Linked DNA regions of Homo sapiens: region 2 is linked to region 1. Evidence: fine-mapped expression QTL. Tissue or cell type: whole blood. Region 1 holds a variant in brackets; the other region holds the start of a gene. All regions are shown on one strand. Distances are between the middles of the regions.

Region 1 (8,106 bases):
CTGGGAGGCGGAGGTTGCAGTGACCCCAGGTCGCGCCATTGCATTCCAACCTAGACAACAAGGGCGAAACTCCATCTCAAAAAAAAAAAATAAAATAAAATAAAAAAATTATAGGCATTTTAGTAGGTGTGGTCATTGTGGTTTTGATTTGCATTTTTCTAATGATTAGTGATGTTGAGGCTCTTTTCATATACTTGTTAGCCATTTCCATTTCCATATCTTCTTTGGAGAAATGTCCATTCAAGTTCTTCCCCCATTTTTAAACTGGGTTCTTTGTTGTTGAGTTGTAAGAATTCCTTATATATTCTGAATGCGAACACCTTTTTGGATATATAATTTGCAAATATTTTTCCCATTCTGTAGGGATTTTTTTTCACTTCACTGATATTATTCTTTAATGCACAAAAGATGAATTTTTTTTTTTTTTTTTTGAGATGGAGTCTTGCTCTGTCGCCCAGGCTAGAGTGCAGTGGCGCAATCTCGGCTCACTGCAAGCTCCGCCTCCCGGGTTCATGCCATTCTCCTGCCTCAGCCTCCTGAGTAGCTGGGACTACAGGCACCCGCCACCATGCCTGGCTAATTTTTTGTATTTTTAGTAAAGATGGGGTTTCACCATGTCAGCCAGGATGGTCTCGATCTCCTGACCTTGTGATCCGCCTGCCTCGGCCTCCCAAAGTGCTGGGATTACAGGCTTGAGCCACCGCACCCAGCCAATGAAGTTTTGTACCCTGCAATTTTGCTGAATTTATTTATTAGTGCTAGTTTTGTTTTTTTGGTGAATTCTTTGGGATTTTCTATATGTAGACATGTCATCTGCAAATAGAGATAATTTTACATCTTCCTTTCTAATTTGCAAGCTGTTTTTGTTTTTCTTGCTTAATTCCTCTGGGTAAGACTTCCAGTACTATATTGAATAGCAGTAGTGAAGGTGGAAATCCTTACCTTTTTCCTAACGTTAGGGGAAAGCTTTCTGTCTTTTATCACTGAGTGTGATACCAGCTGTGCATTTTTCTAGATTATGTTCAGGTAGTCTTTTTCTATTCCTAGTTTTCTGAGTGCTTTTTGTCATGAAAGGGTGTTGGATTTTGTCAAATGCCATTCCTTGCACCAATTGAGATGATCATGTGGTTTTACTCTCTTGAAGTATAAATGTGGTGTATTACATTGATTTATTTTCTTATGTTGAACCACCTCTGCCTTTCTGGGATAAATCTCACTTGGTCATAGCATATAATCTTTTTAATGTGCTATTGGATTTGCTTGTTATCTTGTTGAGTATTTTTGCATCTATACTCGTAAGGGATATTGATCTGTAGTTTTGACTTTTTTTTTCCTCTTATGGTATCTTTGTCTGCAGTCCACTTAATTTTAAATCTATAATTGAGAAGGAATAAACCAATTCTGTAATTCTAAACTGGCCAGAGTAGTGCCAGACCAAGAATACTATCAAGTGAAATTTCAAACTTTTCTGAGACATAAAATTCATGACTTTAGTGACTTAAATTTGAAAGATTGCCTCATTGTCTCCATCACAGAGGATGTTGTATACTTGGTCCTGAAAAATATGTTTGACTAGGGTCCCATGATGGTCATCCATTAGGTAAGACAATAATTTGGCTTCATAAGTCCCCAGAAGAGGTTAAGCGTCCTGAGAAGGTAATGGGATAGGGAACATAGGAACATGTAGGATATGAGCTTCCTTAATACAGAAGAAAAGGTTTTTCTTAACTTATATATTTCATTCCATCTTCCCATTAGAGAAAAAACTTAATCTTATTTTGCTTTTTGAAAAAATTCTTCCAACAATATATTTCTGTACATGACTCTCATTTTATTGTTTCTTAGACATTTAGAAACCTGGGAGTAAGAGCAAAAACTCACGGCCTAATTATGTTTACACTGATAGTTTAAAGATATTTTAGCACTAACCAGCATCAATTCCTAATATTCATTCAAAATGTTAGCACTTGGTATAAAGAAGGAAACAGGTTGAGCAAGGTGGCTCATGCCTGTAATCCCAGTACTTTGGCAGGCTGAGGTGGGCAGATCACTTGAGCCCAGGAGTTTGAGACCAGACTGGGCAACATGGCAAAACCCTGTCTCTACAAACAATACAAAAATTAGCTGGGTTTGGTGGTGTATGCCTATAGTCCCAGCTACTTGGGAGGCTGAGGCAGGAGAATCGCTTGAACCTGGGAGGTGGAGGTTGCATTGAGCTGAGATTGTGTCTCTGCATTCCAGCCCAGGCGACAGAGCCAGACCCTGTCTTGAAAAAAAAAAAAAAAAAAGAAAAAGAAAAAAGAAAGGAAAAAGAAGGAAACAGGAAATGAGGAATAGTTCCATTAGGTCACACAGCAAGCCAGTGATGGAGTGGAGCTGGCAATTCTGATAGCATCTCTCTCCTTCTTTCTACCTGTTCTGCCACCTTTTGTTATCTTACATACTTGTCAAAATACAACCTGAGGAAAGCAAGAGTGCCAGGGCATGGTGAAGGCTAGGAATAGTCTGCTGCAAAGCAGGGAAGCCATTTTTCCCTCACTGGCTATGGGGAACCCTATGTTAACAGTGACTGAGCTTTTTCCTTAGTTGATCTTGTGCAGCATCTAACCTGGATGTGAGCAAACCAGTGTAAGAAATGAAACTGTAAAGGGAAAAAAGTGGATACGAAGGGAGGCAGGCATACTTAACATGAAGAAAACCTGGTCATTTGGCACTCTTTCAGTTAGGTTCTTTCACTTGGCTGGAGGTCTGGTGTGCCATAGCAGTTCTGCAAGCCTGCCAGAGAAATCTAACGATGAGAGTACAGTACCTTCATTGTCTAAACTTCCTCCCAACTAGTTAAGTGAAACTAGCTAAATGAGCAGCGCTGGCTTATTCCTTCGGAGTCATATTTTTTAACATGTGAAATATAATTATTGTAAGAGTCCACTCTCTTAAGTTTCAGGATTTGTTGGAAGACTGGGAATAGAGGGTGGCCATTGCCAGACCTGTAACTTGTAGAGCTGTGAGCCCAGCCATCTCCTGGGGCACTTTCCCAGGCTCTCTCAGAATTTCTGGGAGAAGGAACTGCCAGCTTCACCCCTGCAGTGCCCCCATGTCTGCTGGGCCCTTGCAACTTGAGAACTGGAGTTGGGCACTAGAGACAGGGCTTCCAGGATGTGGGTCTTCCTCTGGCTTGGCCATCCCAGGTCAGTCAGCTCTGGCAATGGAGGGCTCCAGCTGATCTTTTGGCTGTGGAAGGATGACTGGGTAGGGTACCACAAGGCTGTCCCTAAGTTATTAGGTTGAACCATAGGAAATTGTCAATATTTGACCATTCTGTTCTTCGAAATAGTGATTTCATATGGTTCAGCTTAAATTTCTAATATGGGGAAAGAAAGGAAAGAAATGGAAGCCCAAATAATCTATTGCCTGCACTAGGAAGCAGAATATATTTTCCAGAACATTAGTCTCTGTAGGGAAAAGAGAGATCAGACTGTTACTGTGTCTATGTAGAAAGGAAGACATGAGAAATTCCATTTTGATCTGTTCTAAGAAAATTGCTTTGCCTTGAGATGCTGTTAATCTGTAACTTTAGCCCCAACCCTGTGCTTACAGAAACATGTGCTGTATGGAATCAAGGTTTAAGGGATCTAGGACTGTGCAGGACGTGCCTCATTAACAGTATGTTTACAGGCAGTATGCTTGGTAAAAGTCATCGCCATTCTCCATTCTCAATTAACCAGGGGCAAAATGCACTGTGGAAAGCCGCAGGGACCTCTGCCCAAGAAAGCCTGGGTATTGTCCAAGGTTTCCCCCCACTGAGACAGCCTGAGATATGGCCTCCCGGGAAGGGAAAGACCTGACCATCCCCCAGCCCGACACCCGCAAAGGGTCTGTGCTGAGGGGGATTAGTAAAAGAGGAAGGCCTCTTGTGGTTGAGATGAGGAAGGCCTCTGTCTCCTGCATGCCCCTGGGAACAGCATGTCTTGGTGTAAAACCCGATCCTATGTT[C/T]GTTCCATTCTGAGATAGGAGAAAACCACCCTGTGGCTGGAGCCAAGATACGCTGGCGGCAATGCTGCTGTTACTCTTTGCTACACTGAGATGTTTGGGTGGAGAGAAGCATAAATCTGGCCTACGTACACATCTGGGCATAGTACCTTCCCTTGAACTTATTTGTAACACAGATTCCTTTGCTCACAGATTTTCCTGCTGACCTTCTCCCCACTATCACCCTGTTCTCCTGCTGCATTCCCCTTGCCGAGATAGTGAAAACAGTAATCAATAAATACTGAGAGAGCTGAGACTGGGGCCGGTGCGGGTCCTCTGTATGCTGAGCACCGGTCCCCTGGGCCCAGGGTTCTTTCTTTATACTTTGTCTCTGTGCCTTATTTCTTTTCTCAGTCTCTCATCCCACCTGATGAGAAACACCCACAGGTGTGGAGGGGCTGGCCCCCTTCAACTCTCCGTTCATTTTTTAGTTTTGTTGAGGCTCTTTTACAGGTTGAATTGTGTCCTCCCAAAAAAGGTATGTTGTGGTCCTAATCTCCAATACCTCATAAGGTCACTTTATTTGGAAATACATTTTTTACAGAGGTAATCAAGTTAAAATGAGGTCATTCAGGTGGGTCCATTATGACTGGTTTCCTTATAAAAAGAGGAGACTTGGACACAGAGATAGATCTGCACAGAGGGAAGACACTGTGGAGACACACAGAGGGAATGCCATGTGAAGATGGAGGACTGGAATGATGCATCTAGAAGCCAAGGAACACCTGAGGCTCCCAGAAGCCAGGAGGGAGGCGTGGACAGCTCCTTCCCTAGCACTTTCAGGAGAATGGCCTTGGTCAACACCTTGATTTTGAACTTCTGGCCTCCAGAACTGAGAGACAATGAGTTTTTGTTGGTTTAAACAATCCAGTTTGTACTACTTTGCTACAGCAGCCCTAGGAAATGAACACAGGCTCCTTCCAGTGATGAAAACCTATGCTGTTGGTAAGAAACAACAGTACAGCCTGGGTTAAAAATGGCACAGTGGTTTAATCTCTAGAATCTCAGACAACAGATTTGAGGTATTCATTCCTATAGGATCTGGCTGTGCTTCCTACACTGACCAAAAAAGATTCATGTGTTCAGATACAACAAAGCTAGCTTTCTAACTTACTAACTTACAATGTATATGCATATGCACATGCCTGTGTGTTTCCCACCATGTATTTATTCTTCATGCTTGGTTTTCTAGCATTTTCAAGTTTGCAGTAAAAGGTTCAATACACATTTATTTCTCTAGTCTGCAGTGGAGCAGGTAACATATCCTAAGGAGACAAGAGTTTTTTTTTTTTGTTTGTTTGTTTGTTTGAGATGGGTTCTTGTTCTGTTGCCCAGGTTGGAGTGATGTGGCATGATCTTGGCTCACTGCAACCTCTTCCTCCTGGGTTCAAGCAATTCTCCTGCCTCAGCCTCCTGAGTAGCTGGGACTACAGGCGTACGCCACCATGCCTGGATAATTTTTTGTATTTTAGTAGAGACGGAGTTTCATCGTGTTGCCCAGACTGATCTTGAACTCCTGAGCTCAGGCAATCCGCCTGCCTCGGCCTCCTAAAGTGCTGGGATTATAGGTGTGAGCCACAGCGCCTGGCCCGAGAGTTGTCGATATGCTCGCAGGAAGTATTTCTGTGTTAAAAAGTTGAGAAGATGGAAACTGAATCCTCTTTGTATTCAGAAGGCTGTTTCGGAAGGTCACTGTTGGCAGGCTTCTCCCTACAGGGATTCAGCAGTGAGGGAGCAGAGTATTTGGGGGACAACTGCTTCTTCTGGAGGGGCGAGAATGAGATGGAGTTCACCAGCAGCTCTTTATGTCAGACTTTTAGCAGGATTCAGCTTTATAAATAAGCCTAAACAAACAAAATAACAGCAGATGATTATATGTCAACTGACTTCAATTTGATGGACTACTCTAAATAGAAAGACATATACAAAAGAAGGATTTGATTCACATTTGTAGCTTCAGTCTATCTGTCCACTCTCATTTTTCAGCCAAATTAAGAATCAGCTTTTGACTATCACAATACTGTATTACTTCTCCCTGGGTAACCAGGTCCTCACCACTTGGCCATTTCATGGTTCCTCACTACTTCCATTAGAAATGAAAAGAACTAAAATTACAAGTGAGCCATCTGGCACCTTTATGATATTGAAAGGTTTAGTGAGACAGGAAGTACAAACCACAGCCTGGAATGGAGTTCTTAAATTGACTGTGGATTTAAGTTATTATCTTCCACCTGCTCCTTAAATCCATCATTCCTGCAAATGCTTCATACTTAAGAGGAAAAATAAATTTCTTAAACAAGATACAAAAAAATTAGCCATAAAGGGAAAAATGTAATAAATGCAACTAAATTGACATTAAAAATTTCTGTTCATAAAGAAGATACCTTAAAGCAAATAAAAGACAACTTACACACTGTAAGGAGGTATGTGCAACTTATATATCCAACAAAAAATTGTTCTAATAGAAAATATATAAAGAACATCTATAAATCAGTAAGAAAATGAGAACAAATGGAAAAAAAGCTGAACAAACAAAAATTTCACAGAATGGGAAAAAATATGGTCAATAAACATATGAAGAGACACTCAACCACACAGGTAATCAGAGAAATGCAAATCAAGATCACACCGAGAAGTCATTTTATAGTCATTTGACTGGCAAAAATCATGAAGTCTGACTTCACTAATTGCTAGAGAAGATGGGAATCTAAAGAATCTCATATATTGCTGGTGGGAGTTTAATTTGGTACAGGCTTAGAAAACAATTTTGCATTCCTCTGTAAAGCTGAATACTCACAATACTCTACCACCCAGAAATTCTGTTCCTAAGTATATGCCAAGCTCTTGCCCATGCACACCACCAGGAGACATGAACAAGAATGTTTATAGCAGCCCCATTTGTAATAGTCAGAGGCCTGTCACTGGAAGAGAGACATTCATTGTGGGACAGTCACATATGGAGTATTACACAGTGGTACAAACAAGTGAACACAGCCAACAACATGGATGAACCTCAGTACTCCAGGGAAGTAACAGGTCATGTGTGTGACTTTCCTGAGACAGTCTACACACACATAAATATAGACATATTTTTCTTATTTATGGTATCACAATATTTCACCATTTTTTAATGGCACACACATACAATATAGTTCATAGGTGAGCTGTAGTTCTTTAACCAGTCTCCTATTGATGGATAGCTATGTTTGCTACGTTTTGCCATTTTTCTTGCTATTGCAAATAATGTTGCATGAGTGACACAATCACTGGAACCCGATAGCAATCTAACACATTATAATTTTGCAGTTATTATACCTGTGAGATAAAGTCCTGGAGGTGGGTCAAAGGGCATATCACTTTGTAAATTTTTTTTTTTTTTTTGAGACAGGGTCTGGCTCTGTCACCCAGGCTGGAGTGCAGAGGTGCGATCTCAGCTCACTGCAACCTCTGTCTCCTGGGTTCAAGGGAGCCTCCCATCTCAGCCTCCCAAGTAGCTGGGACTACAGGCGCACACTACCATGCCCCGCTAATTTTTTGTATTTTTTGTAGAGATGGGGTCTTGCCATGTTGCCAAGGCTGGTCTCGAACTCCTGGGCTCAAGTGATCCTCCCACCTTAGCCTACCAAAGTGCGGGGACTACAGGCATGAGCTTATGCATTGGGCTGTAATTTTGATAGCTGTTGGCAACTTGCCCTTTACTAGCAATGTATAAGAATATCTTTAACTTGTTCTTTGTATGACAGGGAATTAAGAATTTTTTGGCATGTATGGGTTATAATACCAGGGCAAAAAACCAAACCAAACCAAAACACCCCCCTGACCCCCACAAAACCCAAATCAACCAACCAACCAACCAACCAAAACTCCCAACCCAACCCAACTAAACCCCAAGAAAGAGATAAGACCAGCTTCTTACTTGTCGCCTCTGAGTATAGGGTCTTCTCATCAACACTCTGAACATTACAGGAAACAAAAAATTTCCTTCCTTCAACTTTATCAAGTTGGCTATTTATCATAACAACAGAACAAAGAGGGATAGGTCTGCAGAATAAAATGAAAAAGGAAAAAAATCAGTTT
Region 2 (8,106 bases), 37 kb after region 1:
TTCCTGTTTTCTGTAACTAGTAACTTCAAGTATTCTGTTTTATCTAAACAGCACAGTGAAGGTTATAAGACATGCCTGAGTAGGCCTAGGCTGCGGCCGTCTGGGCACCATAGTGAAGATTATGAGATAAGCACTTGCAAGGCTCTTTTGAGCAAGCCTAGATAACAGCCACCTGGGCTGCATAAGCAAGGGTCATAGTGAGAGGTGACAGTGTGCTGGAAGTCCTCACAGCCCTCGCTCCCTCTCGGCGCCTCCTCTGCCTGGGCTCCCACTTTGGCGGCACTTCAGGAGCCCTTCAGCCCACTGCTGCACTGTGGGAGCGCCTTTCTGGGCTGGCCAAGGCCAGAGCCGGCTCCCTCAGCTTGCAGGAAGGTGTGGAGGGAGAGGCGCGAGCAGGAACCAGGGCTGCGCGGGGTGCTTGTGGACCAGCTGGAGTTCCAGGTGGGTGTGGGCTTGGCGGGCCCTGCACTCGGAGCAGCCAGCCGGCCCTGCCGGCCCCACGCAATGAGGGGCTTAGCACCCGGGCCAGTGGCTGCAGAGGGTGTACTGGGTCCCCCAGCAGTGCCGGCCCACTGGCGCTGCGCTCGATTTCTCACTGGGCCTTACCTGCCTTCTGGCGGGGCAGGGCTCGGGACCTGCAGCCTGCCATGCCTGAGCCTCCCACGCCCTCCGTGGGCTCCTGCACGGCCCGAGCCTCCCTGATGAGTGCTGCCCCCTGCTCCACGGCGCCCAGTCCCATCGAGCACCCAAGGGCTGAGGAGTGTGGGCACACAGCGTGGGACTGGCAGGCAGTTCCACCTGCAGCCCCAGTGCGAGATCCACTGGGTGAAGCCAGCTGGGCTCCTGAGTCTAGTGGGAACTTGGAGAACCTTTATGTCTAGCTAAAGGACTGTAAATACACCAATCGGCACTCTGTATCTAGCTCAAGGTTTATAAACACACCAATCAGCACCCTATGTCTAGCTCAGGGGTTGTGAATGCACCAATCGACACTCTGTATCTAGCTACTCTGGTGGGGACTGGGAGAACCTTTGTGTTGACACTCTGTATCTAGCTAATCTGGTGTGGACGTGGAGAACCTTTGTGTCTAGCTCAGGGATTGTAAATGCACCAATCAGGGCCCTGTCAAAACAGACCACTTGGCTCTACCAATCAGCAGGATGTGGGTGGGGCCAGATAAGAGAATAAAAGCAGGCTGCCCAAGCCAGCAGTGGCAACCCGCTCGGGTCCCCTTCCACACTGTGGAAGCTTTGTTCTTTCGCTCTTTGCAATAAATCTTGCTGCTGCTCACTCTTTGGGTCCACACTGCCTTTATGAGCTGTAACACTCACCGCGAAGGTCTGCAGCTTCACTCCTGAAGCCAACGAGACCACAAACCCACCGGGAGGAACGAACAACTCCAGACGTGCTGCCTTAAGAGCTATAACACTCACCACGAAGGTCCGCAATTTCACTCTTGAGCCAGCAAGACCATGAACCCACCAGAAGGAAGAAACTCTGAACACATCCGAACATCAGAAGGAACAAACGCCGGACATGCCGCCTTTAAGAACTATAACACTCACCACGAGGGTCCGTGGCTTCTTTCTTGAAGTCAGTGAGACCAAGAACCCATCAATTCCGACACAGTATGTAATCCTGAATTATGCACCTGTCACAATTTGATGAATTAATTGCCTTTGTGCTGCCTCTGTATCCTTGCTTTCACGCCACTATGCTTCACGCCACTGTAAGCTTGTTTCAAGCTAGCCCACCCCCTTTTAAAAGTGTGTATTAAAGTCAAGTGCTGTCTTTGTTCTGGGCCCAGCTTTTGGATGTTAGTCCGCTGGGTCTGAGTGCACTCAATAAAGTTCTCCTGTCTCACCCCATGGCCTCTCCAGTCCTCCTTCATTCCTGCAACAGAAGGATGAGTGAAATGGGGACTCAAAACCTCTCACTTTCATTTCTGAGCCTTTTGGTCTTATGGCATTCCTCTTCTTTTTGGGGGGACAGCAACGGCACCTATTTTTCTTTTTACGATACTGGAGGTGGTCCACACCCACCCCAATGGTCACCAGTGCACTCACAAGACAGTTGGGTGGGGTAGCTCCCTGGCCCCACTTCTTTACTGGCTGGGGTGCATGGTGGTGTCTGCAGCATGTGTGTGTGGTGTCCAGTAGCCACACAGGGCATAAATGAGCCACAGCCACTGCCCAGGCTCCAAGGCGCCGGCATGGCTGGCTGGCGTTCCCTACCAGGTGCCTGCAGTCTCCCCCTCCCCATTCCAGGGAGTCTAGCTCTGTCCCACAGCAATTAAGCTCCTCTCTCTGGTGGAGGAACCATTTGCATAGGAATAAGAGGTTCTTCCCCCAGGCATCCTTATCTCCTCTCCAACCCATCAGCAGTATACTTTTAAAGGAGGTTTTTCTTTTCCTTTTGGAAGACGTTTTGCTCTTTTGGGAATGATGAGGATTACCGTTTATATTTTCTGTAAAGTTTTGTGCGAAAGGATTTGTGAGGTAAGTCGTAAGCTGTAGCCAATCTGTGTGTTTTGCATGTCTTTCTGTATGCTCCACAGCAAACTTCGCTGCAGGCCTCCATCTTGTTTTACGTCCTTGGGGGCGTGGCCTGTAACCCCATTGCATAGCTTCGTTTAGCCCGGCATGGCCCAGATTCATCCTGGCTTAGGGAATGAGTCCTTTCTGGTTTGGTATCTGTATGCCCTTTCGCTATTTGTCGATTCCCCTGCCCTCCACCAACCACCTTGGATTTTCCTTTCTCTGAGCCTTTAAGTAAAGTTTGAAAGCCAGAAATATTGGCCGCTTGGTGGAGCTAAAGTTAGATAATAAGGGTGTTAAAAGAATTTTCTTAAGGAGTGCTCAGCTTAATTAAAAGTAGATATCTAAGTTGTAATTATATTTATAAGGCCTTTATGTTTTCCTTTTCTTGGACCTTATTTTGCTGGAAAAAGTGTTTCTTTGCGGTCGACTGAGTTATTTTTCTCCATTTTGCCTTGCCACTTTTAATGCCTGCATAAGAGGGGCGATCTCTGTTTTCCTCATGGAACCCCAGGAATTAAAAGCAGATAGATCCCTCTCCCTGTGATGAAAGATCTTATGGCAACTGGGTTTTCTTCTGCCTGTCTGTGTAGTTATATATGTGTTGTGTGTGATGTCTATAAAAAGATCTCTAATTAATTGACCTAAAGGAAGATAAGCGTTTGGATCAAATATTTTTTTAAAGGGAAGATAAAAGCTGTGGTATCTTTTAGTTCACGTCACTTTAATCTTTGAAAAATAAAAACAGCCTCAAATATTATTGGTAAAATACAGATGTTGTCAAAATATAAATAGACAGACTAAATTATGCAGTTCAGGTAGCGCCCTGCCGACCCTGTCTCTTAAAAAACAAAAAAACGGGGTCACCTTTCCATCCCTTTTCTAACGGTTTGAATCTCAGGACTGTATTCCTAGGCCCCTGTTGCTTATGCTGCCCTGTGGTGCCCAGGTGAGCTTTTATTCTGAGATTGGCTGGTTGGGGTATGGATAACAATCGAAGGCTCTGTTACCGCAGGCGTGTTTCTGAGTCCTGCTCCCGCCCCATGCCCGAGGGTGCCCAGACTCACCAGCTCGGGTCGCGGCTCGCTTCCCGGCAGGCGCCGGCCTACTGGCGGCAGGCACAGAGCCCCCAGCGTGCGGAGGCGCGCGGCGCAGCTCCTCAGCATGGCTCCGGGCCGCGGGGCCGCGCTTGCTCTAGCCCTGGACGGCGCACTCTACCTCCGCCACAAGAGCGCGCGTGCGAGTTAACCCCTGGGGTGGACGCAGGGCGGGGCTTGGGGAGGAGGCGGTGCGCACTACTGGCGGCTGGCTGGCCGGGGTGTGAGGCCGGCGGGGTCCGGGTAGGGCATCGCTGTTGAGTCTATCTTCTGGTTCCGGCCTTTTCTTTCCGAAGACCTCCCGCTGCGGCCAACAGCCGGGCCACTTCCGGGGCTTCTCAAAGGCAAGAGGAGCGCGGCCGGAGCGGATCCCGGTTATCGCCTTGGGCCCCTCAGCCCCTCAGCCCCGGAACCCGCGCGCCGACTGGAGGCTTTGCGGTCATCCTTCCCACATGACCCAGGGCGTACGCAGTGCTCCGTGTCCCCAAGTAGTTATCCCTCCCCCGGAAGACTGAAGTCCCTGGGGCGGGTAGGAGCGCACGCTAGGAGTAGTATGAATAAAGTGTTTTCTTGGAGGTCATGGGCAAGTCTCTGGACAGGGTTGATAGTGCTGATTTATAGAGGGCAGTCTGGGCACAAAGAGCATTTATACGATCGAAAAGCTGCTTTCCCTGCCAACAGCCCCATACCCTCCCCAGGAGCGCGCTTACGCCTTAAAAGACTCTTTTGTTATGTAAACTGACAGTTAAATTAAACGAAGGTAATGGATACTAAAGGCGTAACAGGTATTGTAACTATTTTACTGTTATCGATGCTTTTGAGGTTACTTACCTCGCTTGTATTCGTATGGTGGGAATACTAGGCGCATACCTTCTGAGCTTCGAATTCAGTAACCTCACTGGGACCTTGAAATCGGACTGGGTTGGAGTATTCCCATTACTCAGATAATGCAAATCCGGGCCATCATACCCCTTTATTTTTAAATGCTTACCAGTATGCCATAGCCCTAGTCCATCCTAAGGTGAAGACTCTAATGGGTTTTTTTTGAGACAGAGTCTCGCAGAGATACTGCTATTGCACTTCAGCCTGGGCAACATACTGATGCCCCATCTCAAAAAAGCAATAAATTAAAAAGAAAACTCGAATGACCTGAATGCATTAGATATTTTGCCTTGATTCCTTTCCCATGAACAACTCCAGCAGTTTGTCAGTAGGTAAGAACACCTAGATACATTTTAAGCCTACACTATTAACTGGGGGAAGGTGTAACATTCTGAGAGAAAGGGAATTGGGGAGAGAAGGCAATGCAGTTAGGAGGGGCCCCTTGGAATCCTAGAGCTACTGAACCGAAGATCAGGCATAAAGGATGGTTGTTGAGATTCTGTAATTCTAAGAGGTTGTATTCTGATATCTCCTAAGCACCCCCCCCAACCTCCCACATTCCCTTTATCTCAGTTGTCTTCCTTTTTAATATATTAATAGTATTGCAGTTTCCTGGTGGCAGGGATGGGGTCAGATTGCCTTATTAATTGTAACAACGTGCACGTAGTGCTTGAATACTTACTTAGCAGCAAGAATCCAAAGTATCTTTGGTGTCTGTTGTCTTCCCATGTTGTGCGTGCAGATGGAGGCACGAGCATAACGTAAATCTCTAAAATTGAGATGACTACTGTTAATGAATAGAAAAGTTTATTCAGGTAACTTAAAATTGCATCTATTTACAATTTACAGTGTAGTCAAATCAATCAATACCTATAGACTTCAACCCTGCTAAGATTGTCTATATGATTAATGTACCAATAGCTCACCTAACAGCTTCCTTTTGTTTTTTTGAGATGGAGTCTCACTCTGTTGCCCAGGCTGGAAGTGCAGTGGCATGATCTTGGCTCACTGCAACCTCTGCCTCCAGGGTTCAAGCGATTCTCCCTGCCTCAACCTCCCGAGTAGGTGGGATTACAGGCGCGTGCCACCACATCTGGCTAATTTTTATATTTTTGGTAGAGACGGGGTTTCACCCTGTTGGCCAGGCTGGTCTTGAACTCCTGACCTCAAGTGATCTGCCTGCCTCCCAAAGTGCTGGGATTACCAGCATGAGCCACTGCACTCGGCACCTATCAGCTTCTTAAAAGACCTTAGACTTAGGGCAATTAGAGGTCAGTTACACTGAGTTTAAACTTCATTAAATTTTAACTCTAAATTTTTCAAGTAGCGGCAGTGCATTTAGTTAAGTCATCCACACTCTTGCATGGCTTACTCTGGGATATTCGTGTTGACAGCACATATAAAATGTCTGGTCAGATTTGGAAGAGGAAGGGCAGGTTACAGTCTAGAAATAGGATTGATAGGCTATGGAAGTGAAGGAGTTTGAAGCTTGTATGGTTTAGGCAAGGAACAAATGTTCAATCTTGATAGAACTAGGCTTCGAATAAGCCAATGGTATGAAACTTAATAGTCTTCTCACCATTCTTTAATTTTGTAGACAGCTTTATTGAGGTGTAGTTGCCATAGGATGGGCACCGTGGCTCATACCTGTAATTCCAGCACTTTGGGAGGCTGAGGTGGGTGGATCACCTGAGGTCAGGAGTTTGAGACCAGCCAGGCCAACATGGTGAAACCCCGTCTCTGCTAAAAATACAAAAATTAAGGCCGGGCGCAGTGGCTCACTCCTATAATCCCAGCACTTTGTGAGGCTGCAGCGGGCAGATCACGAGGTCAGAAGATTGAGACCGTCCTGGCTAACACGGTGAAACCCTGTCTCTACTAAAAATACCAAAAATTAACCGGGCGTGGTGGCGGGCGCCTGTAGTCCCAGCTACTCGGGAGTCTGAGGCAGGAGAATGGCGTGAACGTGGGAGGCGGAGCTTGCAGTGAGCCAAGATCGCGCCACTGCACTCCAGCCTGGGCGACAGAGTAAGACTGAGTCTCAAAAAAAAAAAAAAAAAAAAAGTTAGCCAGGTGTGGTGGCGCATGCCTGTAATCCCAGCTACTTGAGAGGCTGAGGCAGGAGAATCGCTTGAACCTGTCAGGTGGAGGTTGCAGAGAGCCGAGATCGCGCCATTGTACTCCAGCCTGGGCAACAAGAACGAAACTCCATCTCAAAAAAAAAAAAAAAAAAAAAGCCAGAGGCAGTGGCTCATGCCTGTAATCCCAACACTTTAGGAGGCTGTGGCAGGCGGATCACAAGGTCAGGAGTTCGAGACCAGCCTGACCAACATGATGAAACCCCGTCTTTACTAAAAATACAAAAATTAGCTGGGCATGGTGGCGTGCACCTGTAATCCCGGCTACTCGGGAGGCTGAGGCAGGAGAATTGCTTGAACCCGGGAGGCGGAAGTTGCAGTGAGCCAGGATTGCACCACTGCACTCCAGCCTGGGTGACAGAATGAGACTCCGTCTCAAAAAAAAAAAAAAAAAAAAAAAAGAGATAGTTGACATAAACTGAACATATTTAAAGTATACAATTGGATGTTTTCATACAAGTTTACACTCATGCAAACATCACCATAATCAAGATAATGAGCCACAAAATATTACCCACAAATTTGCTCATGCCCTTTTGTAAATCCTCCCTTCTATCGTACAGTACTTTCTGTCACTGTAGATTAATTTCCATTTTCTAGAGTTTTATATAAATGGAATTATATAGTATGTACTTTTTGTGGTCTGGATTTTTTTAATTCACTATAACTATTTTGAGATTCATCCATGTTTTGCTTATGTCGAGAATTTATTTTTTAAAATTGCTGAGTAGTATTCCATTGTATGGATGTACCACAATTTTTCTATTCACCCATGGATGACCATTTGGCTTATTTCCAGTTTTTGTGAATTACAAATATAGCTGCTGTGAGTACAAGTCTTTGTATGGATGTATGCCTTCATTTCTCTTGGGTAAATATCTAAGAGTGGAATGGTTGGATCATGTGGTAGATGTATGTTTAACTGTTTAAGAAACTGCCAAACTTTTCCAAAGTTGTTGTATCATTTTACCAGCAGTGCATAAGGATTTCAGTTCCTCCATATCCTTGCCAGCCTTCGGTATGGTCAATCTTTTATGTTTTAGCCATTGTAACTAGATGTGTGTAAGTATTTTATTGTGGTTTTAATTGGCATTTTCCTAATGATGAATAATGTAGGACATCTATGGGCTTATTTTTCATCTGTGTATCTTCTTCATTGAAACGTCTATTCAAATATTTTGCCCATTTAAAATAATGAGATATTTGTATTCTTATTATTGCACTTATTAATGCACCTCTGATAACATTTCACATCTAAATTTTAAGTTAAATTTCAAACCTTCCATTTATAAGAAAACTGAATGTCAGCGTGATGCTAGCTGCTTTAATATTTCTTGCTGAATTTTTCTTGGATTTGTTGTCATAGGTCTCACTCTTGGAAAGGATGTATTCTTGAATTGTTATCCATGGGGCAAGGCACCAAAATGAGTCTCCGGCTGGGTGAAGGGTCCA

What was found. PIP is the estimated chance that this variant, and not a neighbour inherited with it, causes the effect.
Region 2: it holds the start of THEM4, and the variant in region 1 is fine-mapped to the expression of THEM4 in whole blood (TOPMed, PIP 0.94).

What each region holds. Positions count from the first base shown.
Region 1 is chr1:151,869,056-151,877,161 of GRCh38, forward strand. THEM4 (thioesterase superfamily member 4) reads right to left here. Exons shown (of 6, transcript NM_053055.5): 5 at 7,946-8,070; 6 at 1,811-5,873. The coding sequence ends at 5,833. Among named protein-coding and RNA genes, the nearest start is that of THEM5, 19 kb to the left of the region's middle. The variant C/T (reference allele first, on the strand shown) is at 3,994.
Region 2 is chr1:151,905,756-151,913,861 of GRCh38, forward strand. THEM4 (thioesterase superfamily member 4) reads right to left here and starts at 3,756. Exons shown (of 6, transcript NM_053055.5): 1 at 3,605-3,756. The coding sequence starts at 3,703. RefSeq lists enhancers at 502-1,041, 4,033-4,152, 4,141-4,728 and a silencer at 3,483-3,792.